Regions from separate parts of the Homo sapiens genome. Here regions 2, 3, 4, 5 and 6 are each reported to be linked to region 1. The links are microRNA targets in miRTarBase. Many come from high-throughput screens and were not tested one by one. Region 1 holds a microRNA gene; each other region holds the end of a gene's coding sequence. Distances are from middle to middle.

What was found. Region 1 holds the annotated microRNA hsa-miR-935 (CCAGUUACCGCUUCCGCUACCGC, at 862-884, shown strand). A microRNA usually pairs through its seed, bases 2 to 8, with sites in the 3' UTR of a target mRNA and lowers its output. Matches are read on the target gene's strand: a 7mer-m8 pairs with bases 2 to 8, a 7mer-A1 pairs with bases 2 to 7 and ends in A, and an 8mer does both.
Region 2: the mRNA of PTPRK is a reported target of hsa-miR-935. The part of its 3' UTR that is shown has no 7-base or 8-base seed match.
Region 3: miRTarBase lists THOP1 as a target of hsa-miR-935. The part of its 3' UTR that is shown has no 7-base or 8-base seed match.
Region 4: miRTarBase lists RNF150 as a target of hsa-miR-935. The part of its 3' UTR that is shown has no 7-base or 8-base seed match.
Region 5: miRTarBase lists BECN1 as a target of hsa-miR-935. Seed matches in the 3' UTR shown: 7mer-A1 at 634-640.
Region 6: the mRNA of TMEM200C is a reported target of hsa-miR-935. Seed matches in the 3' UTR shown: 7mer-m8 at 3,603-3,609 and 7mer-A1 at 3,438-3,444.

What each region holds. Positions count from the first base shown.
Region 1 is chr19:53,981,501-53,986,409 of GRCh38, forward strand. MIR935 (microRNA 935) reads left to right here and starts at 807; the gene lies at 807-897. CACNG8 (calcium voltage-gated channel auxiliary subunit gamma 8) reads left to right here. Exons shown (of 4, transcript NM_031895.6): 4 at 580-4,909. The coding sequence ends at 1,349.
Region 2 is chr6:127,966,000-127,971,198 of GRCh38, forward strand. PTPRK (protein tyrosine phosphatase receptor type K) reads right to left here. Exons shown (of 30, transcript NM_002844.4): 30 at 2,786-4,281. The coding sequence ends at 4,228. Among named protein-coding and RNA genes, the nearest start is that of PTPRK-AS1, 59 kb to the right of the region's middle.
Region 3 is chr19:2,811,983-2,817,181 of GRCh38, reverse strand. It overlaps THOP1 (thimet oligopeptidase 1), which reads right to left. Exons shown (of 13, transcript NM_003249.5): 13 at 1,375-4,067. The coding sequence ends at 3,906. Among named protein-coding and RNA genes, the nearest start is that of ZNF554, 5.3 kb to the left of the region's middle.
Region 4 is chr4:140,863,711-140,868,813 of GRCh38, forward strand. RNF150 (ring finger protein 150) reads right to left here. Exons shown (of 7, transcript NM_020724.2): 7 at 1-4,669. The coding sequence ends at 4,551. Among named protein-coding and RNA genes, the nearest start is that of TBC1D9, 110 kb to the left of the region's middle.
Region 5 is chr17:42,805,992-42,811,103 of GRCh38, reverse strand. BECN1 (beclin 1) reads left to right here. Exons shown (of 12, transcript NM_001313998.2): 12 at 176-970. The coding sequence ends at 344. CNTD1 (cyclin N-terminal domain containing 1) reads right to left here. Exons shown (of 7, transcript NM_173478.3): 5 at 4,286-4,430; 6 at 3,240-3,336; 7 at 1-1,739. The coding sequence ends at 1,569. Among named protein-coding and RNA genes, the nearest start is that of CNTD1, 9.7 kb to the right of the region's middle.
Region 6 is chr18:5,886,263-5,891,461 of GRCh38, forward strand. It overlaps TMEM200C (transmembrane protein 200C), which reads right to left. Exons shown (of 2, transcript NM_001395400.1): 2 at 1-5,199. The coding sequence ends at 3,936. MIR3976HG (MIR3976 host gene) reads left to right here. Exons shown (of 10, transcript NR_172496.1): 8 at 1,259-1,460; 9 at 2,818-2,911. Among named protein-coding and RNA genes, the nearest start is that of TMEM200C, 6.7 kb to the right of the region's middle. RefSeq lists a silencer at 4,301-4,520 and an enhancer at 5,038-5,199.

The DNA.
Region 1 (4,909 bases):
CAGACCATCTGGGGGTGGGTCCTAGACCACCTGGGGCAGAGTTTAGACCAGCCAGGGCTGGGTTAGACCGGCAGAGGTGGGCCGTGGGCTATCTGGGGGCAGGACCTGGACCATCCAGGGCCGTGTCTGGACCATTCAGGGCAGGGCCTGGACCACCTGGGGGTGGAATTTAGACCATCTGAGGGGGTGCTTGAGCCTGCCTGGGCCAGGACCACGCATGATGCAGTCTGGACCATTGGCGGCCCTACACCACCTGGGGGATGGAGTTTCGACCAGCCGGGGTTGGATTAGACCAGCAGAGGTGAGGCCTGGGCCAGCTAAGAGTGGGCCGGAGCCCTCTGGGTTGGAGCTTAGACCAGCAGGGAAGCGCCTAGAGCATCGGGCGGGGAGTTGTGTTCACTTCTGGCAGGACTTGGGTCAGCCAGATCCAGGACGGGGGTCTAGACCACTCGGGGTGGGGCCTAGACCGCCTGGGGGTGGCGCCTGGGCCCGCTGGCGCAGGCGGGCAGGGGTCGGGGCCGGGGGCGGGGGCGGGGCCGGGGGTGGCCTCGAGGCTCCCGTCTGACCGTCCCCGCCCAGGCCTGAGCAACATCATCGGCGTGATCGTGTACATCTCCGCCAACGCGGGCGAGCCGGGCCCGAAGCGGGACGAGGAGAAGAAAAACCACTACTCGTACGGCTGGTCCTTCTACTTCGGCGGGCTGTCGTTCATCCTGGCCGAGGTGATAGGCGTGCTGGCCGTCAACATCTACATCGAGCGCAGCCGCGAGGCGCACTGCCAGTCTCGCTCGGACCTGCTCAAGGCCGGCGGGGGCGCGGGCGGCAGTGGCGGGAGCGGCCCCTCGGCCATCCTCCGTCTGCCCAGTTACCGCTTCCGCTACCGCCGCCGCTCCCGCTCTAGCTCCCGCTCCAGCGAGCCGTCGCCGTCGCGGGACGCGTCTCCCGGCGGCCCCGGGGGCCCGGGCTTTGCCTCCACGGACATCTCCATGTACACGCTCAGCCGCGACCCCTCCAAGGGCAGCGTGGCCGCGGGGCTGGCGGGGGCCGGCGGCGGCGGCGGCGGCGCCGTGGGGGCGTTCGGCGGCGCGGCCGGGGGCGCCGGGGGCGGCGGCGGAGGCGGCGGCGGGGCGGGTGCCGAGCGGGACCGCGGGGGGGCGTCCGGCTTCCTCACGCTGCACAACGCCTTCCCCAAGGAGGCGGGCGGCGGCGTCACGGTCACGGTCACCGGGCCGCCCGCCCCGCCCGCGCCCGCGCCACCCGCGCCCTCTGCGCCCGCCCCCGGGACCCTGGCCAAGGAGGCCGCCGCCTCCAACACCAACACGCTCAACAGGAAAACCACGCCTGTGTAGGGGCGCGGCGGGGGAGCCGAGGGGCGTGTCCGGGGCGCGTGCGCGGGCGCGCGTGCATCGAGGCTGCCGGGGTCGGGGGCGCCCCCGCTTTCCCCCGTGAGCGCGCTGGAGACTGCTGGGCCCGCCCCACGCCCACCCTCCCCGCCCCCCTCCCCCTCCGAAGCAGGGACCCCGAGGGAGGGGGCAGGGGAGGGAGGGGGCCGCTGTGAGGGAGCGTCGTGTTTTATTTTTTTGGGGGATCTATGGGGAGGGGGGAGGGCCATGGTGTTTTTTGCAGTTTCGAGATGTTTTCTTTTTCATGTTTTGCTGTGTGCATGGGGGGCGGGGCGGGGGGAGGGGAGGGAGGGACTCCCAGCCCAGCCCAACTCCTGGAGAGGGGCCCATAATACACGAATACATAGTTACACCCACAAACTATATATATGCCCTATATAAAGAGACACAGCGAAGGGATGCAGAAAGGCAGAAAGAAGGGTTGGACGCGGGCATTCATTCATTTTTTTCATTCATTATTCCACAAGGGCTTATTAAGCACCTACTGTGTACCAGGCACTGGTACATAAGAAGGCATTGGAGCAGGGGACACGAACGAGGCACAGAAAGGGCCTTCTCATTCATTCATTCATTACCGGCAATTTATTTGTGCGCCTTAAAAAGCTAGGCATTGTGCTCCGTGCTCAGCGTGCAGGAGGCAGGAAAACAGCCAGGGGCCCCGACGTCTCATAGAGTAAACATCTTGTGCATGAGACAGGCATTAATCGATCATGTACATACACAATAAATTACAGTTAGGCTATAGGAGAAACGAGATGCTATGAAATGCTCCATCAGGGGAGCCTAACCCAGTTGTGAGGAAGAGATTTCAGTGGACAGTGAAAGGATGAGAAGAAGCCAGCAGGGCGGAGCTGGGGCAGGAGTGTGGCAGGCAGAGCAGCACGTGCAAAGGCCCCGGGGCAGGAAGGAGCTTGCAGCGAGGGCTGAAGGGTAGTGAGGCAGGTGAGCGGGGATCAAGGTGAGGCCGGAGACACAGACAGGGCCAGATTGTGCAGGGGCTCGTAGGTCAGGAGTTCAGATTTTATTCTAGGAGTGGTGAGGGCCGTGGAACGGGTTTAAGCAGGACGCTAACGTGAATGGTGTACAAAGGGAAGACAGGAACTCGGAGGCAAGAGTAGGAGGCAGAGATGTGCTGAAATACAGCATCAAACATGGGCACGGGCCCTTGGAGCTCACACTCTTGTGGGAGGAAGCACGTAATTACACAGATGCTGAAGCATAGTCATGGTGTCTGGTGTGCAGGAGAAAGCCGTGGGGCTTAGAGACTCATGTGTCTGTCACTCGTTCATTCAGCCACTCACCCATTGCCATTTTTGGCCATCTGCTAAGGTACCAGGAAGTGTGTTAGGATCCAGATCCCCAGGGGTGAAACAGACTCTAGCCCTGCTCTCAAGCAGTTTATTGTCATCAAACACCGCCATCCAGGCAGGGCAATCGGTGCTGGAACCCGGACCACCGTGGGTACCGTGGCACACGGTGGACAGAGTGACCAACTGCCAGGAGTGAGCAGCACTTGGGGTAGGCTTCCTGGAGAATATGATGCCCATTCTGGGTCTTGAAGAAATGAGTGGGCATCTTCTGGTTGATGAAAGGCATGAGAAAGGCTTGTGGGGCCAAAGAACAACTTGGGTGAAAACGGGAGGAAGTGAACGAGCATGATGTATTGGGGTCAGTGCTAACAGTTCTGGGATGCTGATGTACAAGGTGGGGCTGGGAGATGAGGCCGGGAAAGTAGCCACAAGCTAGAGTGTAAAGGTACCAGGGTGGCCGGGCGCGGTGGCTCATGCCTGTAATCCCAGCGCTTTGGGAGGCTGAGGCTGGAGTATCACTTGAGCCCAGGAGTTTGAGACCAGCCTGGATAACATGGCGAAACCCTGTCTCTACAAAACATTAAAAAAAATTAGCCGGGCGTGGTGGAGCACACCTGTGGACACAGCTACTCAGGAGGCTGAGGGAGGAGGACCATTTGACTCCAAGAGTTCGAGGCTGCAGTGAGCTAGGATCGCGGCACTACACTCCAGCCTGAGCAACAGACTGAGATCCTGTCTCAGAAAAAAAGAGAAAAAGGTGCCTGAGTTCCAGGCAGAGGGACTGAGGCTCTTCTAAGGATGGTGAGAGAGGATGACAGCTGCGCGGGGGCAAGGGCTGTGCGGTGATTGGAGGGGATGGGTTTGAAGTTCACTGAGAAGGCAGAGGGGACAGCGCCCAGTAGGCTTCCCTTCCATATTTGCTCAGCAAGTGTTTCCTGAGGCCTCCCCCGAAGCCTTGTGCTGGGCGGTGCTGGGAGTGGAGAGGTGATTTTGATCTTGCCCTGCTCTCAAGGGGCTCCCAGTCTGGCGGGAAAACAGGCACAGACGCAGCTTGAGGAGGACGTGGCAGCGGTGGTGCCATGCTGCCAGGGGCTCTGCGTGCCCTTCTCTTGACGGAAGGGTACAGATCAGAGCTGGGTGTTCAGAATTTCTCTCCGAGGCCTGTGTGGAAGGACCAGGAAGAGAGAGACTGAAGGTCCCTAGGAAGAATTCTGCCAAGGCGGTTTCAGGAAGAGATGCTGGGAAATGTAGGAAAAGGAATACAAATCAGTGAGACGGAGAAGCGCTGAGTGAGAGAGACGGATACGTGGAGAGAAGAGGGATGCCGGAGCGGGTGTTAAAAGAGACAAATCTGGCCGGGTGCTGTGGCTCCTAATCCCAGCACTTTGGGAGACTGAGGCAGGCAGATTGAGCTCAGGAGTTCCAGACCAGCCAACATATTGAAATCTTGTCTCTACCAAAAATACAAAAATTAGCCGGGTGTGGTGGTGCACGCCTGTAGTCCCGGCTACTCAGGAGGCTGAGGTGAAAGGATCTCGCTTGGGCCTGGGAGGGTGAGGCTGCAGTGACCCGTGATGGCACCACTGCGCTCCAGCCTGGGCGAAAGAGCGAGACTCTGTCTCAAAAAAAAAAAAAAAATTGAGAGACAGCAAATATTTGCTGGAAGAGGGAGAGGGAACTGGTTAGGGGAGAATGGATTCTAGAGTCTGAAGGCCAAACAGAACGAGAGAGAGAGAGAGAGAGAGAGAAAGAATGAGGTTGAGGGTAGGCAGGAGGAAGAGCAAGATGGGGAGGGAGGGGGAGAGCAGGAGAGACCAAACTAGTAGAGTCACAGACAGAGAAAAAGTCAAAGACAGGAAGGTGATACAGAGGAGAGAGAAGAGGAAGAGGAGAGACTGACAGGTGCACAAATCAGAGAAGTCCCAGAGATAGCAGAAACACACACAGAGACAGAGATAGAGAGGGAGAGGTAAGCCGGAGACAGACTCAGAGATTCGCACAAAAAGCAACGTGGAGACTCAGAAGCAAGCGCAGCGTCAAGGAATGCTCCATTTCTGGTGTGTTGTTTTCCCAGTATTCAAGAAATATTTATTGAGTGCCAACCTGTTCTAGACCCAATCTCGGCCAGGGGATGTGGTGGCAAATAGACGGACAAGGGCCTGCTCTCCTGAAACACACTGGAGAGATAAACAATAA
Region 2 (5,199 bases), not on the chromosome of region 1:
AGGCACAGCCAGCCGCCTTCTAGCTTCACTCAGTGTTGAATGAAATGGCACATAGACTCTACACTAAGTAGGGGTGTTTACTAAAACACTGAAATAAGTCTAGGAAGGATGTGGAGTCTCTGCCTATGGAAACATTTTATAAGGTAAATATTACATATTATACCCAGGGTATGTGATGGATTATTGATTTCTGGCTATTTTGTTATTAAAAAGAATGCTTGCCAAAGTGCACAGAAATTAAATATAAATGCTGAATTGTCACTCCCCTATGAAAGTTAGGCAAATCTCTGGGCATGGTGGCTCACACCTGTAATCCCAGCACTTTGGGAGGCCAAGACGGGTGGATCCCCTGATGTCAGGAGTTCAAGACCAGCCTGGCCAACATGGCAAACCCCCGTCTCTGCTAAAAATACAAAAATTAGTGGGACGCGGTGGCAGGTGCCTGTAATCCCAGCTACTTGGGAGGCTGGGGCAGGAGAATCGCCTGAACCTGGGAGGTGGAGGTTGCAGTGAGCCAAGATCGCACCATTGCACTCCAGCCTGGGCGACAAAAGCGAAACTCCATCTCAAAAAAAAAAAAAAAGGCAAATCTCAAAGGTGGTCTTCCAAAGCTAGTAGACTGCCCACCTCATATTTTCAGTTGAGCTACAATCAGCCCCTGCTCTTCTGCATTTTAGTATTTACTGGTATCTATTAAGTTCAGGTGCTAAGAACCTCTTGCCTTACACCATTTTCTGGAAGGAGAGTAGATATGAGAAGGAGCAGCCTTTGGTGTCTGACTTCCAAGTTTACGACATGAATGCCTGGAACTCAAGAGATTCTTGTGGTAATATGAATACTGAATGAGCACATCAGCACATCAGTGTGGAGATAAACATGCAGCCTCTCCATGTCCAGGCAAAAAATATCTCCCCTTTTGTTTATCTTTCAATGTCAGAGATCATTTGGCTGCAACACAGCAACACCTTTATCTAAAGACTGATGGTTAATACTGAGTGTCAACTTGATTGGATTGAAGGATACAAAGTATTAATCCTGGGTGTGTCTATGTGTTGCCAAAAGAGGTTAACATTTGAGTCAGTGGGCTGGGGAAGGCAGATCCACCCTTAATCTGGTGGGGACAATCTAATCAGCTGCCAGCAAATATAAAGCAGGCAGAAAAACGTGAAAAGGCAAGACTGGCCTAATCTCCCTGCCTACATCTTTCGCCTGTGCTGGATGCTTCCTGCCCTTGAACATCTGACTCCAAGTTCTTCCATTTTGAAACTCAGACTGGCTCTCCTCCTCCTCAAGCTTGCAGACAGCCTATTGTGGGACCTTGTGATCATGTAAGTTAACACTTAATAAACTCCTTTATATATTTATCCTATTAGTTCTGTCTCTCTAGAGAATCCTGACTAATACAGACTCCAAAGCCTAAGTATTAGAAAAGGCTAGGAGACAACTCTAAGAGAGATAACACTTATTTCCAAGAATGGTTTTAAAACTCAAAAATTCCCAGTTGCTGGTGTGTCTCTGGCCCACACACTTCCAACATCTCCTTAGTGATAGTTATAGAAAGGGGGTCTGTAAAATTCAACGACATGACAGCCATTTAAGGAATAACTAAATTAGGAATAGGAAGCCCTAAACTATGAAAAGCATGTAGAGCTGTGCCAGTGGAAGAGGACCCCACCCCCAGCCAGCACCAGGACATCCGCCCAGAGGGACATGGCTGGGGGTGTCGGAGAACATAGTCATGCACAAGACTACTTAGGGAGCCCTTAAGGGTATAAGATATGAGCTTTTGAATATGAGTTTTGAGAGCAACAGGCAACCCCTCTTCCATTGTCTCCTGATCAAGTGGCTTCTGTGGTGCCCAAACAAAGCAAGCATGATATTTCAATTTCCTGTTACAAAGAAAGAGAACTCTTGTTCTTTGAATTACAGAGGCTGCACAGACCTCTGAGCTTTGTGGACAGTTGTGCTCATGATAACTTTGCTGGTGTGTGGTGCAGTCATGAGCAGAAATGAAGTCAGTGTCACACAGTGAAACAGAATCTTCTATAGGATAACATAATAAACATTACCGGGTAAAAAAAATCTTGGGCGAGTTTGTGGATTTTTTTTTGTTAAATGCCTCCATGTTTAAATGAAAATCAGCTTTCCTAAGAAAAGTTTGCTTTATCTGAATTTTTTAAAAAGTCACGCATTTTCTAATAAAGTACATAGCAAATGGGAGATTGAAGATGTCCATTATGATAATAATACTTTAAGAGAAAATTGATTAATGAGGAACAATAGAAATGAAATTCTAAATTTTTTTGTCTATCTTTGTGACATTTGGGAAACAATGTGTTTAGTGGTAAAGACATAGCTGCTAAGTAGGAATGAATCTGTTGACAAATCATGTACCTTCTCATTAGCTTCCATTTCATCATCTGTAAAATAGGGATCATAAGTACCATTTGTCATGTTGGTTATAAGAAAAAAGTAAGATGTGTATTATATAAATGGATAGTGACAAACACAAATGGAAAATGTGTATTACATACATGGATAAATATAGAAACCAACAAACAAAAAATGATGTCAATCTCCTGGCCTTTTCCATCTCCACCTACTGGACATTTTGGCATTAAATTAAGAAAATAAAAATAAAAGAAACTAGAGGTTGGAAATCAGTTTTACTCTTTAAATAGAGTTTTTGTGGCCTACTTGTATCAACGAGTATAGGAATAAGCTACTCATTTAGTGGTGAATGCATAAACATTAAGAGGAAAAAATGATGTGCAAACAATAACTGTTATAATTATAAAAACTTTATTTCATTCTTACTTTAATTAAATCTTTATAAGCACCATGTCATGAGCTGGCAATCTAGAAAGAGGACACTGGAATGCTTTAGTCAATTACAAACTGCAAGCTGATGATGTGAAGTTACAGCTACGTGGAGCATGTGAACAAGACCACATTTAGAAAGGTTCACTTAAGAATCCCATGACAATGCGCAAAACAGGAATCTGGCATTGATTTGTTCACACTTTTTATAGTCAGAACGCAAAGCTTGTGCATGTAAACATCAAGAGAAACATTTTATCACCCTGACAGTTTACAGTTTGCTCAAATTTGACCCTGAAAGCATATATGTTGCCATCTTGTTTTCTTGACCAGTGCTGGGCCACAGGCTGAAAAACTCCATTCCTTTAAAATTTAAATGATGCTTAAAGGCTATGTTCAACATTGTGCAAGTTGTCAGCAAGGCCTTTTAATGTGTACATTTCTCATGTATGATCACCAAACCATTATTTACCTAATGAAATTGTGAAAAACTATACATATTCAGCAAAATGTTTTAATTTGGTCCTATATTAAAAGACCCAATTGCCAAGGGATTTTACACAAATTTAATTCACAAGCATGTACACAAGAGAATCACTATAAAGAACATTGCTTCCTGGTTTATGAATAAAAAGTTTATCTTCTACTTACACTAAAACATACAAAAAATAATCTACAAAAATCGTTTACAATTGATTTTAGCTAAAGAAAAAGCTTTCTTCAGGAAAAAAAAGATGATTGTGTGGTGGTAGTATTTTAGCCATCAAAAAAGGAATGTAAGTAACCAATAAATATAATGTGCTTTCTCCATATAGACATATTTACACTTGAGTCTTTGGCTTATGTTATTTTCTAAAAAGAACTTTAAATGATCCAGCCATCATTGCACATTAAAAGAAAATAAGCCAGTTATATATATTTATATATTTATATAGAGATCTGCTACACTGGAAACATATAAAAAACGAACTTTACTATGAATTTGCACAGCTTTTCTTTTCTTCTTCCTTTTAAGATTCATCAGCTTTCATTTTAGAAAGGGAGAAAAATGCCACGTAGAAAGTATGAACTCATGCAACATGTGGTAGCTGCTCTACTGAAACCATGAGAAAAAAGGTGGCATGTTCACTGTACAAACACCAATACGTTCTCATTTCAATCTGGTTCTTATTAAATATAATTTATGTGGCATGAAATGTTGATGCTTTAATATAGTAATAAAAACTAATTCAGTCCTTTTTATTAAGATACACAACTTCATAAAAAAAATACTTTTACCTCTCAAATGTAAAAGTCTCCCACCCCCCACATTAAAATCTTTCTGCACAAGTGTAACAGGTACAACAGCTGCTGGCTCAATAGATGGACAGGTTTCTTCATGGATGCACTTTAAAGAGTCTCACCCAACTAAGATGATTCCAGGTACTCCAAAGCTACATCATAGCAGAAACGGTATTGCTCCTGAAAGATGTCAAAACACAAAGAGTGAGAAAACTTAAGAAAGAGACTAATGTTGAATAACAGTTACCAAATGAAACTTGACAACCAATTTAGATTACTCAAGGATTACAATTTATTTTTTCTATATATGAGATTAATATCTAGGCATACATATTTTATACTTGAGTCTAATGATCCATTTAAGAAAAAGGAAATTTATCTTAAAAAGACATTTTATCTTTGCCGCATATTTTCTATCAATTTTTTAAATATCTATAATTTTTTATCTGTTTATAATAGTAATATTTGATCATTACAGAACAATTCTGTACAAATATAAAGAATATACACATTCTGAACAAACATAAAGAATGAGAAAAAGAGCTATAATTCTATCATCAGAAGAAATTGTTAAAATATCACCTTAGTTTGCCTCAGTTCTTTTTGTGCATGGTTGAAATAATTATCTTAGAATAAATATAACTATGTATATTTCAAAATATAATTTTAAATGTAACTTTTAAAATTTAACATTGTTACAATTCTTTTTCCATGTTATTTAACATCTTTTAATACCACATAAAAATCAAATATATGTATTGTTTGACTATTAAGTTGCTTTTATTTTTTTCTCTATTTTATAATGCTACAGTGATAAACTGCAAATGTTTTTCTCCATATATTTCAGATGATTTCCTTGAGAAAAAAAAAGCCAGCCATTTTAAACAGCCATTTATGCAATTTCAAGTTCTTAATTTTTGACACTGTTTTTGTCCATCAGAGTATTTAAGCAAATTTTTCAAGAATGGTTAGTGATCCTTAAATTTTGAGCCTACTTATACCTGAAAATGTATTTCTGCTGCCTTTATATGTTTAAGACAACATATTGGCAATAAAATTTTTGAGTTAAAACTGCCTTTCCTCTAAGCCCATCTATGG
Region 3 (5,199 bases), 51 Mb from region 1:
CACCACGTCTGACTAAATGTTTGTATTTTTTAGTAGAGACGGGGTTTCCTCATATTGGCCAGGCTGGTCTTGAACTTCTGGCCTCAAGTGATCTGCCTGCCTCAGCCTCCCAAAGTGCTGGAATTACAGGTGTGAGCCACTGTGCCCAGCCAATAAAAACATAAATAATAACTGGGAATTTATAGGCTCACATAACCGCCAAGTTCAGGGGCAGGTCCGGACCCCACCGTAAACTGGGTTGGAGGTGCTTGGACGATGTAGTGGGGTAGCCTTCATCACAGCCGTAGCGTCCTCCGGGTTGGCAGGCCCCACTCCAAGCACCTCCACGTGCCGACAGCATTCCCTCCTCCCAATTTCAAGTTCAGGGAAAAATAAAATTCTCTAATCGTTCAAACCGAGTCAGACTGGAGGACGGCACTGATGTAGGTGCTCCAAAATAGGTCACCAGCCCATCCGCAAACCAACGATGAGAGGTGGCCGGGGGCACAGGATGGCCTTTGGGACAGAGCTCCGTCTCCCTGACCTCCTGAGCTGAGGATGGGGCAAGAGGGAACACACAAGGGCAGTCTGGGGTCTGAAGAGGAGAGCATCACACCGGTCTGGTGCAGCCTGGAAAAGCCAGAAAGCTCTCTGCATGGCCACAGGGAGCCCAGTTCCCCAGGGAGCCACGTGGGCAGCACCCTGGCCCCTAGCCCATGCTGGAACTCATCCCTGGGCCCTGTCTACCTGGAGACTTGAACCCAGACCTCCTGCCTTCCAGCCCAGGGCTCAAACCACCCGCAAGCTGGCCATTAATCTCAGAATCGAACTGAGTTTCACAAAACATTTTGTCCCTTGAAGTAGGGACAGCCCTGGAGAGTGAGGCCCCTGTCCCTTTCAAGGCTGTGGCCTTCAGCCGGTGTTGCTCATTGGGGAGAGGAGGGGGGACGCTGGCTCTGCTCCTGAGATGCCCCATCTGGGACACGGGGACAGTAACACAAGTCCCATGGGGAGGATGGGGACGACCGCGCCTGCCCAGCCCGCAGCATGGAGCCTGCCTACAACGGCCCCACTGGTATCATCCTTGAGAGGAGTGGGGCCGCTCGGGGCCACCAACCACAGAGATCCCAGCAGCTTCTCGGTTGGAGAAATACTTCGTGAAGGACCAAAATGGAACCACAGGCACAAAGCCTGGGGCGCGTGTGTTGGAGGCAGCACAGGCAGGGACAGGATTGTGGGGATGAAGAGCCAGGGACACCTGGGGACAGCCCACGGGGGCTGGACGGGTGACTGGGGAGGAGACCACTTCTGCATTCAGGTTTTGTCAAAAACCTAAAGAAGGAGAGTTTACAGAGAAATGTTGCGAAGATCACAAAACATACAGGTTCCAATATATGTATTTTTTACGATTCTTTATTTCCCCCTTTTTTTTCCACTGGGGAGCAGCAAGGGGCCAAGGAGAGTGACAACCTGGACGGGCAGGGGATGCTAATGCCACACTGTCCTCTGAGCCCACTGCTGGAGCCCTGAGTGGGGAGCATGGGGCAGAGGAGCCAGGAGACACAGCAGCTCTGCAGCCCCCTCCCTGTGATCAAAGCCCCCGCTCTGTCCTGGAGTGTTTGGGGAAACCCGGGTGCCCCCGGTGTGGGCATTTGGGAAGGCTCTGAGGACGCCCAGCTCCCTGGGGAACAGGGCCCTGGACCGAGACTCTGTGCTACTACCTCCACATCCCTGGGTGTCCACAGAGCAGGGGACATGCTGGGGGAGGCGGCCCAACTTGCGAAGCACCGCGGGGGGCTGCCTGGGGTATCCGGCAACTAAGCCCAGTTGGTGACTTCCAGGGGAGTGGGGTGTGGATGGTCCAGGCCATCCGCCCACGGCCCAGCAGCCCAAGGCTGTGACCCCAGCTCTGCTGTGATGGGCCAGGCTGTGTGTGTGACAAGGCTGTGATGGCCCAGGGCCCAGCTGGGGTGCTCTTGCACAACTGGGACTTCGCTGGGGACCAGGTGGAGGCCACCTGAGGGCTCGGGGCAGGGGAAGATGAGGGAGCCCCCAGACTTGCCATCTCCACCTCTGCCCAGTGCGGTCGGCTTTGCCTTCCAGCTTTTCTTTTCTGAACCCCAGGTATTTTATTATTATTGTTATTTTAGAGACAGTCTTGCTCTGTTGCCCAGGCTGCAGTGCAGTGGTGGGATCACGGCTTACTGCAGCCTTGACCTCCTAGGCTCAAGCGATCCTCCTGCCTCAGCCTCCCAAAAAACAGACCACAGGCACTGGCCCCACACCCACCGAACTTATTTTTTTTAGAGATGGGGTCTTGCCACGTTGCCCAGGCTGGCCTTGCCCTCCTGGGCTCAAGCAATCCTTCCGCCTCAGCCTCCTGAGTAGTTGGGGCTTCAGGTGCAAGCTATGGGACCCGCTCTGAGCTGTGAGTATCTGAAACGTGACCACTGTGGTGTTCCCACTTATGGATTCCCGCCTCGCTGGCATAACCCTCCTGGCCACAGGCTGTGCCGTCCAGCTCTGCAAAGACAAGACTCACCCCTTAGCCCCCAGAGTTGGAAAGACACAGAAGCAGGTGCATGGAGCAGAGCCAGGCGTGCGTAAGGTGCAAAGCAGGCCCCATGGCAGTGGCCACAGCCACACTGACCTGGGCTGGGTGGGAATGGGACAGGAGGGGCTGAAGCAGATGGCACAGCCCTCGGAGTCCTGTCCAAATGGAGGTGAGGACGAGGCGGATGTCTGGCCACCCATAGGCCTCGGGAAGCAGGGTCACAGGTTCTGCTGACCAGCGTCCTTCGTGGAGGACTAAGACTGGGGAGGGACGCTCCCAGGGCACGAGGGGGGCTCCTGAGAAACTCACAGTCGCGGGAGAAAACATCAGAGCACTGGGACTGAAGAGACGGGGAGCATCCACTTGTCTTGCTCGGGAGGTGGGGACACAGCCGACAGCTATCCCTGAGGCATCTCTGAGCACTGTTGGAGGGTCCAGGAAGCGCCCCCCCGACCCTGCACCCCCGATCAAGACTTTGCCATGTTGCCCACAGCCAGGGGAGTGGGGCCGCCAGGGAGGGCAGGCACAGGCAGTCCCCAAGGCCATGAGGATGAGGGCCATGGCCGAGCTTCCAGCAGCTGCCCTGGTTCACCTGGTTCACTTGTGTCCAACAGGAACCCCCAGAGACTCTGCCTAGGAAGCTGGAGTGAGCCCGGCCTTCCCCTGTGGATGAGAGGGTGGGCAGCTGCTGACCCCCAGCCCCGCCCCGGCTGCCTGTGCGCACAGGGCCTGCCCTGACTTTCCAGACTCTCTGACCAGTGGAGCCTGGTCCTTGATGGCCAGAGCTGAGCAGGGCGGGGGGAATGTTCCAGAATGACAACAGGTGAGAAGCATGCAGGAAGCCGAAGTCTCTCAGACCCCCCAGGCCGGCCTGGCTGGCAGAACTGGTTCCCAGCCCTTTACTCCCCCACCCCCCGCCCCCACAAGGACCTGAGCCCCAATCCAGGGCCTGGTGTGGCAACAGCCCGAGGGCTGGACCCTGACCCGCCGTCCCACCGTCCTCGGACCAAAAAAGCGCAGGAGCCAGTGACCAGGCCAGGGAGCCTCTCTCTTTTTCTGTTTCCTTTTAATGACCTCATTTCAAAGAAGAGCCGTCTCCTGACAAGGGACGTTTCCCAGAGAGGAGACGTGTTAGTGCAACAAAGACCAGGCCCTGGCAGCCACGAAAGCCCTCCAGATGCCTTGAGGACGCCGTCTCTAGCCGGGTGGGCCACGACCGGGTGGGGACAGACAATGACAAGAGGCAAGACAGCCGCTCAGCCACCCTGCCAGTCCCAGGCACTGTGCCAGAGCCTGCCCCATCCTGTGCCGGGGGCTAAGGCACCAGGGCGGCGGGAGCGCAGGCCAGACTGGGCAGTCGCAGTGCCAGGCCTCAGCAGACCTGCGGCTCGGGCTCGCAGCCCCCGACCTGCAGCCCCTTGCTCAGGAGGAAGGCGTCCTGCTTGGGGTCACGGCCCAGGAAGCGCCTCAGCATGGCGCTGGCATCCTCGGAACCGCCGGGTCTCAGGATGCAGCTTCTGTAATCCATGCCAACCTGCCGAGGAGACAGGGCACTGTGGCCGGGTGGGGACCCAGGGAGGAAGGCAGAGGACCCCAGGAGTCTGCACACCCTCGCCCAGGGGGGCCTCGGAGCAACCCCTTCCAGGTTCCCAGGGAGGCCCGGGGGCCGCCTGCATCAGCACAGGTGGGAGAGCGCAGGTGCCTTTCATCAGAATCTCAGAGCGGGGGTGTGCACTGAGGGGCCAGCAGAGCCCCGAACTCCCCAAACTCCCGAGGTGGCTCCCGCCATCAGCCCCCACTGAAATCCCAGGCTGAGCCCATGAACAGAAGTGGCTGAGCCTCCGGCTGGACAATGTGGAAGCCGCTCGCGCTCTGGGCCGCCCTAAAGGCCCAGGTTTGAGCCCAGCCCTGTGACTGCGGGACTACGGGCAGGTGAGGCAGATGAGACTGCGAGGCGCCGGTGCCAGCCACCAAGGAGACCCCGACGCCCCAGAGCCCCGCAGGAGCCTGCGCGGACTGCAGGCTGCAGAGCCAGGGAGCCACAGTCCCAGCTCCCACCCGGGGGACTCCACCTCTACAGCCCCCGGCCGGTCCTCAGAGGTGGGACCCCCTCACCTCAGCAGCAGGGGGAGCTGCTGGAGGCTGCCTCAGGAGGGGGGAGGTCCCTGCTGGGCTGTGAAGACAGGGGGCTTGTCGGACCATTGCTCCCCCAGGTCCTGGCCTCTGCACCTCTATAAAGGGAGCAGCTGAGTGCCTGCTTGGTGGCTCCGAGGTACCTGCAGGCTGCCCAGTGCAATGTTGCACCCAGGCAGGGCAGGGCCGGCCCTCAAAGCTGGTAGCCACCTGTTCCTTGTGAGGGACTCTGGCGGCTGTCCCGAGCCTGGGTCACACCAAGTCAGCGGGAGGCACAGGCTCACATGGCGTAACGGCCGCACTTCATAGTGAGGAAACTGGAGGTTGGAGGAGCAAATGAATGGCAAACGCCAAGCCTTCTCCAGAGAAGGGTCTGTCTCAGCCCATGGCTCTGAGGCCGATCACGCAGATCCCGGAAGGACTCGTATGGGAAGACACGGAGCTCCCAGCACTCACAGCCCGAGGCCTGAGGGGCCAGTGTGGAGCTTCCTGCAGGGCCCAGGGAGGAGCTGTGGGCAGCACCGCACCAAGAC
Region 4 (5,103 bases), not on the chromosome of region 1:
AGAGAAGATATAAAAATGCTACTGGAAATTGCCTCTGTGGCCTTAGTACCAGAAAAGACTGGGCTCTCGCTCCACAGAGGGAGTGACTCCATAGCCCAGATTTTTTGAAAAGTTTTGATTTAAGGATTTTTTTTTAAGTCAGGGTGATACATTCAATGGATAACTAAATGTCATTTAATTTTTTATGCTCTGCAAAAATATCCATCTAAACAAAACTCATAAATAAGAAAGAATCCTATGTTAGATCACTGGCATTGATTTGGTTTTGAGAGTATGGTAGCCTCAGGGATGTCAGGGCAGTAACTGAAATGGCCACTGGGCATGGTGAGCTTTGAAATGACCAAACCCAGATCTATGAATTTCCAGGATATTTCACCAGGATGAAGGAAATGTTAAAAACAAGAAAACAAAACAAAACAAAACAAAATGAACATTTTTGGACAGAGCTTTGCCTCCATGATTCTGATCATTACCATGTGATGTCAAAAATGGGTAGGTACCTTTGCCGCTTTTAATTTTCTGCCTTCTCCAGACTCTACCTCTCCCTGTGTAGATGACCAGAGTTGACACTGCAGGGGATATCTAACCCTAGAGATTAAGTCAATGTTCAAAAGCTGTATTCATAGTCAGGGCTCAGCTCTTCCAAAGGGACTAGCCACATAGGAGGTAGCAGTTCCTAAAGGTGACCCTAAATTATTTTGAGTGAATGCAAATGCTCCTTTTCTTCCCCATAGCATTGGGGTGGCAGGTGGATGCTGACTTGGAGTAAAATGCTGGCTGTTGGAGGTGGTCATAATTCACCAAGTAGAGACCGGATGATCACAGGCCCCCAAAGATTCTTTTTCAAGAAGGCCACATAAAGTCTTGCATTTCTCATTCTTTCCTCCCAAGTTCGTGAGTTTTCACTACAGCTGTGGGACTGGGGGACACTGGGAAAGGACTTTCACCAACCATGAACAAGAAGAAGGGGTTGAGGTAAAGTTGGGTGATTTCAGTCTGGAGTTCTCTTTGGCTCCTAAGTGCCACATATCAGTCCGAGGGTTTGCCATAGAAGTGAGGGGTATAATTTTGTTTCAGCACCAAATCAGCATGGTTTGTGTGAGTTTTAAGTAACAACTGGTCAGAGGAGTAACAACAAATGGTCATGGACATCAATGATATGGTTAGAAAGTTCAAGCAGAAATTTTAAAAAGGGTGCCTGAATCTTTATTCACTACAAAATAAATGGACCTCTGGGCCTCTCATTAGGCGACTTGGGTGGTGTCCAGTTCTCCCTGGAGGTAATTAAGCTTTTAACCTTCTTTTCTTTTGTAAGGGTCGGGGGATCTTGTGAGAATACTGGAGGAACTCTAGACCTGCATTGTCCAATTGGCAGCCACTAGCCACATGTGACTATCCAAATTGAGAGGTGCTGTGAGTGTAAAAGACACAATGGATTTAGAAGACTTAGTACACAAAAGCATGTAAAACATGTCATTAATTTACATTAGTGACATGTTGAAACAATATTAGGTTAAAGTACATGATTAAAATTATCTTTACCTGTTTCTTTTTACACTTTAAAATGTGGCTAGTAGAAAATTTAAAATTATGTCTGTGACTTGCATTACGTTTCTGTTGGACAGTGCTAGTCTAGACTCTTGCTATAGAAAAATGCACATCTGCAAATACACATACAGTCTGCATTTGCTTCTAGAGGGTACACACACCCTCTGACACTCATCTGTAGACTACCAGGTCTCCAGGTCAGTCTCTTCTTTGGGGGAGGTAAAGAAGGCTATAAGGAAGGGCTGTTCCCCTTTCTTCTGAAAGAGAAACTTTCTGGTTAAGCTTTTTTTTTTTCTTTTTTTTTTTTTTTTTAAACTATCAAAGCTACAGGAAAATCCTCCAGAAACAAACTTTGGTAAGTAGTGAATGGCAAAGGCTCAGGGGGTTTGCAGCAGGACCTCCTTGGGGTCAGATCTGCCAGCCTCGGGTTGGCCTTTCAGACCCCTCATCGTCTATGAGGCATCCTGTAAGTGCAGCTGTGGCCAGGGCTTGCATATGCAATCAATTCCTGATTCACCTAGTTCTTGGCAGGAAGAGAAAATACTCGTTAATCAGAGGACTAAACAATCCAAAGCGCATTCTCTCTCTGGGAATGGAATATAATTTATATTTCTGTTGCTATTGAATTATCCTTCTAATTCCACTGGACTAAACTTAATACCAGTAATACTAAAATTTGTTTTGGGCAAAGCCGACTGAAGGAGGAGTCAGTGGCGCAAGCCTATGCTGACTGTGAAAAATAAACACCTCTGAGATCAAGAATCCCACAGTGAGAGCTAGGATTTGAAGGTATCCAGAGATTGCAAACTCTGTGACTAACAGCAATTTTTAAACAAGGCAAAACAAACCAACTCCTACTTGGACTTAAAACTTCAATCATTTAGATTTTCATTCTCAGCACCATAGTTGTGCCAAGTCTCAAAGGCTGTTATTACATGATACATGTCAAGTAACTCTACCTCCCCAAGCTACGAAGCCTGATTGCCACAAGTCATAGCTATCTGCAAAAATGGATCCTGCCTCTGAAAGACTCATCTGTGGTCCCACAGCCAGAGGAGCTTGGGGACTCATGTTATTAAACCCTTCACATTATAGATGAAGAAGCCGAGGCTTAGTAAAGCGTGTGGTTCATCTAGGATTCTCGATTCAGAGCTCTCTTCATTCCTCCCTGCCTCTTTTCCCACACATAGAGAGTGGATTTCATTACAGGAAGCATTGGACTCCTAGGGAGATGCAACCTTTCTGAGGGTAATAATCATCTGCCTTGCCTTACTGTCTACTTACAAACCATCAAATAGGAAATTGGTAAAGGTGGTGAAAAAGGAGCAGCTAGTATTCTCCGTTGACCTGCACACCATGTTTCAGCAGGCGGCAAGGATTTACAGCAGAACCAAACTCTTTTTGAATGAGTATTAGTCTAATGAGGTGGAAAAGTCCCCATCAATACATAAAAACAACTCAGTGAGAAAAGCTTTCTTTCCTGGTTAATCCAAGCCGCAGCCTGGTGTTTGCCAGCTGTGTAGAGATAAGGTGATCCGTCTGATTGTTCAGAGACGCTATCAATGACCTTAGTCATCTCTGTATCTGGATAGTCTGAATATATTACAAAATTGCCCACTGAAAAAATAGCACATTTCTGTCATAGTTACAAAAGATGAATAAAAACAGAAACAGTTTAAAAACACCATTGGGTTTCAGTATTTACTTGATACCTCTTTTCCTTTCCCTCTTACTTTGTCTATTTCAGTCAGGATAAACGATCTAGCAAATTCTCATGCTGCATACTTTTTGGTTCAAATGATACAGCAAATCACACCTCATTCCTCACTTGGTATCTGGACACACTCAGGGAGCCCTGGGAAGCAATCTGCTAGGGATTCACCTAAATCCTCCCACATGGTCTGGTGAGATTCAACAGAAGTGTGTCGAAATTAAGGTAAAAGCTAGGTGCTACTGCAGCCCCCACTATGTTTGCCATTGGACTTAAAAATGATTGGCTTTTCTCTAAAGCCTCCATTTTTTACAGAACCCACTTACAGAGGTAAGAAAAAAACTGTTCTAGCCCAGGGGAAACCAATGCAACTGGCATTTTGTTTTCAATAGGAAGAAAATGTGGTATCTGGTTTTAAAACCAGCCCTACAACCACCAAAGACTGGATGCCTTGGAGGGGACTTCTGAGTTCAGAATTTCAGCCAAAGACTGTAAGACCCAGAAGAATGAAACGGCTTCCCTAGAGCTCCCTTCTCATGTCACGTGGGCCCTTAATCAAGCCCGGCAAGTGGAAGCAAGTGTGATGTGGCTTAAAATAACCAGCAGTGGCCTCAGCAGATTTAGGGCTTAGTGTTGGGGTCTCTGGCAGCTGGGGTTTTTAAAGGCCCACTTAGAAGAACTTAGATTCTTAATGAAAGCTGGCCTTAGTCCATTTCAGGGTGCTGAGGCACTTCTCAAAGCCATGCACACTTCATGCTGGGAGGTCAAGACCACATATCTCAGAGATGGAATACAAACTGATCATAGCAGGAACTGGTGCTTCTAAACAGAAACCTATACAAAAGCTGGAGTGCATCAAAGGAAAAACAAAGGAATAGATGGAAAGTAAACTACAAATAATCTTTAAAAAAATTGCCAAAGAAATCAAACAACATGCCAAAAACAAGAATGATGAGACATGGAAAGAATTGAAATGAAACTAAGAAATCCTAAAGGTGGCCTTTCAGTCTCTGTTTTAGGAGCTTCTGAAGTGTATGTCTACATGGACATAGGAGTGGAAATCAGCTTTCAACTTCCCAGCTGCCAAGGCCACAGACTGCCATACCGATGGAGAAACTGCATCCTGATTGACAAGACTTTGGATATTGCTTTTCGTCAGCATTCTTGAACGGAGCGCCCTGGAGTTGCCAAGGTGATCTGGAGGTGTGTGTGTGCCTGGTCCAAGTCTTGGAGCACTCTTCCCTTCCTTTCCCTTGGGTCCTACTATCTCTTTGCTTCTGGATTTGTCGTTTCAAGATTTCACTTCTTCACAGTCCTGGTCAGTGGAAAGTTCTACATCAGACAGTCCAACCTCCATTGCCATGATCAAGGAAATGTCAGAATCACTGCTTACAGCTGGCTCCTGCTCACCTGGGAGGAGAAAGCAAAGTTCACAGTGAACACCGAGCTATGTCTTTGCATGCTGCTTATTTCAGTACAATTGCTTGTAATAACATTTCTTTAAAGGCCAAGAGAAGGTATTAGAAAAATTGGGTATTCTGTAAAAACTCTAGTTAAAGCCTCATCTCACATGGGCCAAAAAGTTAAATGCAAACAAAAGAAACTAGAATAATAAAATATATCATCTAAGGATATGTCTTAGTAGGAAAATATATATCTACCGTAAGTTGGGCAAGAAATTCTATTTAGAAAAGTAATTGGGTAATTTACAGAAGAAAAGATTGTTACATATGCGTAACATTTAAAATGTTACACACATGTAAAATAAAATCAAAAGGCATATCAAACTCAGGAATTTGCAAAAAATTTCACAAAGGTTTCTATTCTTAACATATAGAAAGCTT
Region 5 (5,112 bases), not on the chromosome of region 1:
TGTGACAGTCTTCTTGATTTTTGGCTTTCAAGCAAATCCAAAATACACTATCATTCCTCACCAAGTGTTCTTTAATAGATAAAATGACGTGAATGGTCCCATGATCAAGTCCCTGCCCCGAACTTACTTAACTCAGATCTCAGTTACTAATGAGTTTTGCTCTGTCCATCTGCAGGATGGATGTGGAGAAAGGCAAGATTGAAGACACAGGAGGCAGTGGCGGCTCCTATTCCATCAAAACCCAGTTTAACTCTGAGGAGCAGTGGACAAAAGCTCTCAAGTTCATGCTGACGAATCTTAAGTGGGGTCTTGCTTGGGTGTCCTCACAATTTTATAACAAATGACTTTTTTCCTTAGGGGGAGGTTTGCCTTAAAGGCTTTTAATTTTGTTTTGTTTGCAAACATGTTTTAAATTAAATTCGGGTAATATTAAACAGTACATGTTTACAATACCAAAAAAGAAAAAATCCACAAAAGCCACTTTATTTTAAAATATCATGTGACAGATACTTTCCAGAGCTACAACATGCCATCTATAGTTGCCAGCCCTGGTCAGTTTTGATTCTTAACCCCATGGACTCCTTTCCCTTTCTTCTCTGAAAAAAACTAATTTAAATTTGCTTTTCTTTTTTTTAACTGAGTTGAATTGAGATTGATGTGTTTTCACTGGATTTTTATCTCTCTCAACTTCCTGCACTTAACAATATGAAATAGAAACTTTTGTCTTTACTGAGATGAGGATATGTTTGAGATGCACAGTTGGATAATGTGGGAAAATGACATCTAAGCTTTACCTGGTCACCATGTGATGTGATCAGATGCTTGAAATTTAACACTTTTCACTTGGTTCTTATACTGAATGCCGACTCTGCTCTGTGTTAGAGATATGAAATGGTGTTTGATACTGTTTGAGACATTATGGAGAGATTTAATTATTTGTAATAAAAGATTTGCTGCAGTCTGAAAACTGCCCAGGGGTGCACTGTTGGGTTTTTCTTTAAAATAGAGTACTTTGTATTCTGGGAGAATCAAGTTCTAATGAATGCAGGTATGTGGAAATTCTGTTGAAACTTCTTTAGAGTTAGTTTTAGTTTTAAAAAAAGACTCTAGTAAAAATAGATAGCTGTTGAGGAAGCCTTGTTTGTGTAGATCTGAATAATGGAACAGAGATGTTAAACTAATTTTAAGGGGAAATAAAGGCTACCTCCTTGATGCTTAGTCAAGGTCACCCAGATAGTCTGTATTTGAGCCCCTGATTAATACTGATTGCAATGCCTGATGTTCCTCTTAATGAAATTAAGCTAAAAGTATAAATACCTTGTTAAACAAAAATGAAACAACTAATCTGTCTCCACCTAGCTTTTTAACATTTTCAGGCTGATATGACAAAAAGGGCATGCTCGTCCACCTTAACTCTCTCTGATAAAGGAAAAATAAGCATGAAATTGGCATACAAAATACAGTTCAAAAGAGACTTGGAATTTTTGTACCCTTAGTATGAAAGTAAACAGAGGGAGGCATGAGTGCAGTGACGGATGGCTGTTTATATTTGGTGGATTCAGCCTCCCTCATGTGTTAGAGGAAGCAACAGTCTTCAGAGCTCTGGCTGCCAGGTGGGGAGGAATAGACTGCTGTCTCCCCGGAGTGTTGGCTCCCACTCCGTGAGTCAGGATTGCATAAGAGAACTCAGCAATGCTTGCCAAGGCAATACCAGTGATGCTCTGCAAATGCCCCACAACCTTCAGAAATAGAGACAGATTTCTTATTACTAAAAAATCTCAACACATTTTAGTGCACAAACACACACATTACTTGGGATGTTCTCTCAAGGCAATTGTAAATTCATTTTTCTGAAATCCAGATTCCAGTGTTTGCCAATGGCCAAATTATATTAGGATACCTTTGCCCTGATAATGTTAGCATGGAAACTTTCTGGTAGACATTTCCCTCTGCTGGAGATAAGTTTTGTGAAATATAAGAATGATATTTGGGCCTTGACATTTTCATTATTTGAGAAGATATAATTGTTGGACTTTGTTTTGTTTTGAAACAGGGTCTCACTCTGTTGCCCAGGCTGCCAGGCTGCAATGCAGTGGTGTGATTTTTGGCTCACTGCAGCCTCCACCTCCTGGGCTTAAGTGATCCTCCCACTTCAGCCTCTGGAGTAGCTGGGACTACAGGCGCAAGCCACTATGTCCAGCTACTTTTGTTTATTTTTTGTAGAAATGAGGTCTCACTGTGTTGCCCAGGCTTGTCTCCAACTCCTGGGCTCAAGCAATCCTCCTGCCTTGGCCTCCCAAAATGCTGGAGTTACAGGCGTGAGCAACCCTGCCTGGCCTTTGTTGTTGTTGTTGTTTTGTTTGTTTGTTTGAGACAGGGTTTCACTCTGTCGCCCAGGCTAGAGTACAGTGGCGCAATCATGGCTCACTGCAGCCTCCAACTCCTGGGCTCAAGTGATCCTCCCATCTCAGCCAAGTAGTCCACATAGTTGTGGGACTGCAGACATGCACCACCATGCCCGGCTAATTTTTTTTTTTTTTTTTTTTTTTTAATGAGATGGGGTCTCACTCTGTCTCCCAGGTTGGAGTACAGTGGTGAAATCTTGGCTCACTGCAACCTCTACCTCCCAGGCTCAAGGGATCCTTCTACCTTGGCCTCCTGGGTAGCTGGGACCACAGGCATGTGCCACCACACCCAGCTAATTTTTTAAAATTTTTGGTAGAGACAGGTCTTTTCCATGTTGCCCAGGCTGGTCTCCAACTCCTGAGCTCAGGCAGTCCACCCACCTCGGCCTCCTAAAGTGCTGGGATTACAGGTGTGAGCCACTGCGCCCAGCCATGACTAATTTTTAATTTTTGTAGAGACAAGGTCTTGCTGTGTTGACCAGGCTGGTCTTGAACTCCTGGGCTCAAACAGTTCTCCTGCCTTGGCCTCCCAAAATCCTGGGATTACAGGCATGAGCCACCGTGCCCAGCCTGGAGTTTAACATAATAGCAGGTTATCGTTATAAAGGGAAATGAACAAGCCGAACTTGGGCCTCCATTTCCAGTTTTATAAAAGGAAAACAAGGAAACATTTCAGCCCTATCCTAGATTTTTCCCTCTCAAATCTTGCACACCCATCCTAATCCTGGGTCTTGGCACTTCTGTAGGTTGTCCTCTGTTTTCCTTTAACTGATGGGTGAAATGCTTTCTGTTAAATGAATTCTCACCATGCTGGTCCTGCTCAGTGGTGCATACCTGGCTCCAACACTCATGGTTTTGGATGAAAGCACTTGCTGCAATGATTCCTACTGCCAACAGCATGAAGTCTTCCTTCACTGAAGTAAACTTTTCCCTGAGTGATTAAAACCACATTAATTTTAAAGCTAGAATGGAACTTGATCTTCCAAATCATAGGGTCATGGAACTTCAACTATGAATTATTTGTGTCGATCATCTTGGATTTTTTAGACATGGAAGGAAATGGTCAAGTAATAGCTCATTGACCTGCTCTCCCATTCTCCCCCAACTTAACTGGGATTAACATGAGCCTTATGTCTTGAATGGTTTATAGGCCTTTTTTAGTTCTATCTGTTTCCCTAACAATTGTAACTGTGAGGCTTTTAACCAGTCTGACTTTACAGTAATCAAACACTCTTGTCCAAGTTGCAACCTTGTGACTGTTTTTTTTTTCTTTTTTCTTTTTCTGAGACGGAGTCTCTCTCTGTTGCCCAGGCTGGAGTGCAGTGGCGCCATCTCAGCTCACTGCAAGCTCCGCCTCCTGGGTTCACGCCATTCTCCTGCCTCAGCCTCCCAAGTAGCTGGGACTACAGGTGCCCGCCACCACGCCCGGCTAATTTTTTGTATTTTTAGTGGAAACGTGGTTTCACGCTGTTAGCCAGGATGGTCTCGATCTCCTGACCTCGTGATCTGCCCGCCTCAGCCTCCTGAAGTGCTGGTATTACAGGCATGAGCCACCGCGCCGGCGACTGTTTTTTTTTCTAAATGACTGACCAAAGCAGTCCAGTAACCTTGAGTTTTATGCAGCTATAAAGGAAAAACTAGGAAAGGAAATATATTAATTAAAGTAATTTAAATTTAAAAGTAAAAGCCTTTAGGGTTTTCCTGACCAGGCTCAGTCACCTGCATCCAAACAACATATTGGAACTAATGAGAACCAGGTAGCCTGAGTAGGTTATCTGGGACTGGATGCCATGCTAGGCTAATTCCATTCCCCAAGTTCTTGTGGTCTGTCTCCCCTTCCCTGTTCCTGGAAGGAGCCTACCCTATAGGAGTTGTCTTACCCTTGCAGCTGACTGGGAGTGGAGTTCTCAATTGAAGCCCTCAACAGGCTCTCATATATGGGTTCATGCAGAAGATAGACCAGGTCGAGCAGTGTCAGGCAGGTTGCATGCAGCCTCATGGCTGGAACCAAACAGCCATTGTATCCTAGATGGAGTATGGGAATGATAGGGAGAATTTATGATCATGTCTTCTCTGATCATAACCACAGTTGTGACATAAAGCTGTTGAGGTGCTAATGTGCTTCCTGGTTGCTATGTTCTACTACAAGAAACCTGTTTAGCTGGAGATCAGTTTTAAAGGACAAAGGTAGAGGTAGAGAAACCTCCATCTGTAGTATACATACAATTAGCATGTAGTTGTCCCTCTCTTATCTTATGCCTCTCTATAAAGTCACCTCTTTGATCCTGCAATAAGAGTGCCTAGTGAGTCCAAACAGAAGCCAGTTGCTAAGACCTCTGAGCTTTCCCTGACAAGTGCCGGAGGGAACACCTGTTTCAGTCATCCAGAGACACCATCAAGCTTCCTACTGTTCCTCATTGGCAGGTTCTGCCCACTGTTCCCAAACCCCTGTGCACATTTTTTTTTTTTTTTGAGAAGGAGTCCGCTCTGTTGCTCAGGCTGGAGTGCAGTGGCATGATCTCGGCTCACTGCAACCTACACCTTCCAGGTTCAAGCAATTCTTGTGCCTCAGCCTTCCAAGTAGCTGGGATTACAGGTGCCCACCACCACACCCAGCTAATTTTTGTATTTTTAGTAGAGATGGGGTCTCACTATGTTGCCCAGGCTGGTCTTGAACTCCTGGCCTCAAGTGATCCACCTACCTCAG
Region 6 (5,199 bases), not on the chromosome of region 1:
AAGCCTAATAGGGGGCTGAGACCTCAAGGACTTCACTGGCCTTTCTGATACGGCTAGCCTCAATAAATGGAAATGCAATAATTGTGGCTAAATATAGCCAAGTGTGCCAGTTTGGGCGTTCATTCATTGTTATATAATATTATGATCCTGGGACCATAAGGAGCATATGTCTAGCTCTTGATAGTTCTATGTTCTACCAGGAGGCATTGCAGCAGCATAAGCCCTCATGTTTTAAGGTCTAACTTTTCTTTCTGATATACCTAAATTTTAAAGACTTTTTAGTACATTAAGTTTATGGTTGTCCCTAACTACTGAGTAGTAAATTTAGCCTACTAATTGCTTTTCTGTATTTTGCCTTAATAATAGTAGTTAACATTTACTGAATATTTTTATGTGCCAGGAGTTGTTCTAAGTCCTTTAATTATATTAGTTTATTTAGTCCTCATTTAAATAATTAATTCTATGTGCCAAATTCCATTTATTATCTCCATTTACTAGATGTGAAGACCCAGTTATAATGTTATATAACCCCCTAAGTCACACTTTGAGCCACTATGCTATGTTGCCTTATACTTTAGATTTTTAAGCCTAAAATTATTCTATTAATAAAAAGGAAGGTCATATGAAGTAATTGTTTAGCAGTTGATTCTATTTTAAATAAAAGGAACAAACCTTTGTATAATACTCTCTATGTTCCAAGCCCATTATAAGCACTTTACACAAATATTAGTTCATTTAATCTTTACTCCAGTCCTGTAAGATAGGGACATTATTATTCCTATAGTGTGGAAAAGGAAATTGAGACACAGAGAGACTATGTAACTTGTCCATGGTCACCCAGCTGGTACATGACAGAAATTCAGGGAAAAAATACCATCACACCAATTGTTGCAATTATTTTAATTTAACATTCGAGTCCTGCCACTGCTGTTTGTCTCAGAATAAATTGTTCCATCTTTCTAAATCTTAGAAACCTCATTTATAAATTAAAGGTGGGGGGATTCTATCATCTATAAGGCCCTTTCAAATACTCTTATTTATTGTGTACAAAAACCCCTGAAAAGTCACTTACAAAAAAACTTGTTCATGCCCGTCTGAAGATTTACGAACTCCAGCTTTTTATCTGACTGTGCATTCTGACAATTTTCTGCATTTCTCTAAGAATGGTCTGGAAAGGGATCTGGCAGGAAATAAAGAATATATAAAGTATTTTGATGGTCTCCAGAAATGCCCATTTCAACTCAGCATCTGCCGACAGGTCTACCTAATCTTCCAAACTCTGTGTAAATCCTGGATCCACCATTTACCAGCTGTGTAACCCTGGACAACAATTCCATCTTTCTGACCTCAGTGTCTTTCTCTGCAAAACAGCGGTAAGAATGATCCTACTTCAATAGAGTTGCTGTGAGGATTCACTGAGATCATGTGTACCAAGCTCCTACAATAGTACTGAACCCACAGTAAGTACTGAGTGAAAATTAGCATTATTGCAGATTTCTGCTCCTATGAAAGTTACGATTGTGAATTACTACACTTATACACTTCCTCTGAAGTCTAAAGAAATCACAGGCTCCTCCCAAGATTTGGAAAATTGAGCTCATCTTTGTCTATCTTCAGAAAAAAAATCTAGTTAAATTGTTCAATGGTTAAGTTAGATATTATCTGATATGGAACTAAGTTTGTGAGATATAAACAGTATTCTGTCCACCCCTCCTTAGTTAAGCTAAGAGGTATTAGCTTTATTATTTGCTAAATGTCACTTAGCATTTGATAAATGTAACATTTACAGTGCATTCTCCGAGGACTGGAAACAGTATTGTAGAACACCAGAACCTGTTTTCCCCTTGAAGTAACACGCTATCTCAGTATATAAATTACCCAGTACCCAAGGTAATGGAGAAGAAAACCTAAGGAAGTTTGACATTTACTTTGGAAGTGTGATAAAGCAATTGAGACTGTTGAAATTTAACACTACCTTGAGGTCTTATTACACTTGCATGTCACTCCTTAGTGCAAACTCACTTTTGCTTTATAGAAGAGCCCAATATATTAATCTACAGCCTTAAAGTGAGTTACCGGTTTAATGCAGATCCAATCTGAGAATAAATTAGGCCCTTTTAAAGTGTATTACAGAATGTTGAGCTAATGGTAATTGACGACGTATATTCACTCTTTGCCAAGTTGTAGGTACAAATGTGATATGATTACATCCAGGACAAGAGCCTGAATTTAAGTAAGGCTTTTAGAGCTGAAGATCATAGAGATTATATCATCTACCAGAGGCCCAGAGGGATTAAGTGATTTGTCTAAGGTTATACAGATAATAGGTGGATATCCCAGATTTCAGACTAGACTTTCTTGAGCTCAAGTTCAAGGAAGGTCCATTCTTCTACACTATGCATTCAGCAATATATTACAATGGTAATAATAATTACAATAACCCCCATCTATTGAATACATCCTGTGGGCCAAGGGTTCTGGTAAACTCCACACATATAAACCCTCCTCTGACCCTGACCCTGTTCTATTCCTCTCATAGCTCCATGAGATATGTCTGGTTCTCTTCATTTTACAGAAAGATGACTGAGACTCAGAGTTTGTGACTTGTACAAGGCCTCACAGCTAGGAGATGCCAACAGCTGGGTCCAATCTCAGCTCGGAATCTGCACTCTGTCTACAGGACTAGCGCTTTGCCCAAGGAGACCAAAATGAAGACATCTTGTCTCCTGGTCTTGAAAATTAACTAATTCACTTTTAATGACATCAAGTGTAAACAATCTACCAAATTATTAAAACATTATCTTTTTGTCTATGTAGGCCATGGATCAAGACCATTAACTTATAATCAGTGATAGCCAAGAGGATGGGAAGAGAATATTAAGCCTGGTGCTCTGCAAATTAATACTTGCAGGTAAATGAGAAGTATCATAGGCATATTACTATTTACTTAACGTTTCATTCTATTTGAAAGAGAAATTCCCAAATGTTAAATACTACCCTACATTTTAAGCTTAAAAATACGCTGGACATGCGACAATGGTGCTGAGTACTTTGGGGGAAGATCACAACAGTCCTGGTAGCAGTGTCACAGCAAAATATTTCAGAGGTACCAGATGAGCTAGCTCCAAGGCAAATGAGGCAATATTATGTTTAACTGTTTGTTCGGAAACTTCTTTTATTAAAAAAGATTTTAAATATTAATGCTATTTTCAATACAGGTGTGATAACACTCAATAAAGCATGGTGTACTTGATATAAATTTCGGAATGTAACAGTCCATCTAGTTCCTGGTCCCCTCCAGTCTCCACCACATAGCCTAGTAGCAAAACGTACACACCCGTTTAAAAATGAAGAAGCTTTTGGGCATTGGGTGAGCACAGTGGGGTGGGGCAAGGAAAGTGCTCGTTCCTGAATTATTCATGCTTTTGGCTTTGACTTCAGTTAGTAACATCAATTCTAAGAGAACTGAGACAAACTCTTCTATGTTCCGCAAAGGAATGGAGAAAAAAGCCTGCCATTCGCAAGCAGCTGTGGGCAAAACCAGCGCAGAGTACAGGGGTCGGGAAATGAGGGATTAAAAAAAAAAGTCGGAGTAAAGTGCACAGTTACTGTCAAAAATATATTATTTTGATCCTAAGAAAATTAAAAGATTTTATCTAATGGACTAGATTGCTGACCTTTTAATACATTTGGTTTTCATTGAACATACAATCACCATCGGACATAAAAAGACTAGTTTGCTTAAAAAAAAAAATCCTTGGAGTTATCTACAGGAATCTTGTGGACGCAATTCAAGGATAACATTCTGCAGCTCTTTGGATATTGAATGATGTCCTCGGATCAGTCCACAAAAGAAACAGGGACCTGTTAATGCACTGATTCAAGTGGGCGTTTCTCCCATTTTCTCTTTCCTCCTCCCCAACCCACCCCTTTCTCTAAATGCCTGTGCTTTCCAGTTCTTCTTCTACCCCTATGGCATGAGACCTGGAAATCATGATGAGTTTCTCCTTGTTTGTAAACTGCCTCTGCACCGGCTGAGGTTGCTCGGCCGTGGGTGGCTCCTGGCTGGCACCCTCCGGCGAGCTCTGCTCCGCACCCAGAACGGGGGCGGCCACAGCAGAGTCTCGCGTTTGACCAGCTACTGCGTCCAAGACCGACTCGGTGGAGGTGCCGGCCTCCCGCAGGGGTGTGTAGCCCTTATTGCTGCTGGATGGGTCATCCGACTGGGAGCTCCCGGAGTCCCGCCTGGTGGGGGGCGAGCCCTCCAGCCGCAGGGGTGGCGAGGGGGAGGCGGCCTTGGCCAGAGGGCTGGAGTCCGGGTCCGCACTCCCCGGGGAGGGCGGGGGCTCGGGGGACGGCGGCGCCCGGTAGTCCGGGAGCCCGCTGGTGCTGCGGCGCCGCAAGGCCGCGTACCTGCCGGTCCTGGGCAGGCGGCCGCCCTGCCCCCTGGCGGCGCGCGCCGCTACCGCGCCCTCGGGCTCCTCCGGCTCCCGGCGCGCCCCGCGCATGCTGCCCTCTGCGCCGCGGAGGTTGGTCATGCTCAGGTCGAGCTCGCCCCTCGGGATCTCCTGGGAGCCGCGTTCCCCCGGAGGCCTCTGCCAGCTGCAGCTCGCGCCCTCCGCGTCCCCGCCCCTATCGCGGCCCCCTTGCAAGGGCAGCAGCGCGAAGGCGCTCAGCGAGGAGTCCACGAAGGAGCTGGCCGTGCTCTGGCGCCCCCAGCTCTCGGGTGGGCTGCAGGGCGCCGGACTGCTGCAGCTGCTAGCGGCTGCGGCGGCGGTGGCAGCGGCGGCCCGGCGACTGCCTGCCACGCCCGAGCGCTCGCGGTAGACGCTGTACACGGCCTCGGCCAGGCTCGGGGGCTCCCGCGGACAGCGCGGGGAAGAGGCCAGGTCCGGCGGGGACGCGGCGCCCCGAGGGCGGCCGCCGCTCGGCGCCGCGGGGTGAGGAGGCCACGAGCCCTTGGCCAGCATCGCCGCCGCTCCGAAGGCGTCCCCGGAGCCACCGCAGCCCCCGGGCTTCAGCTCCAGGCCCCGCGACTGCACGTAGCTGAGGAAGCCGTTGAGCGGTATGGCCCCGGGGGGCGCCGCGGCGGGGGCAGACGACGACGAAGAGGCGGCGGCGGCCGCGGCGGCGGCCGCGGCGGCCGCCAGGTCTTTGGCGCGGAGGCTGTGCACGTCGATGACGGTGGAGTAGAGGTCC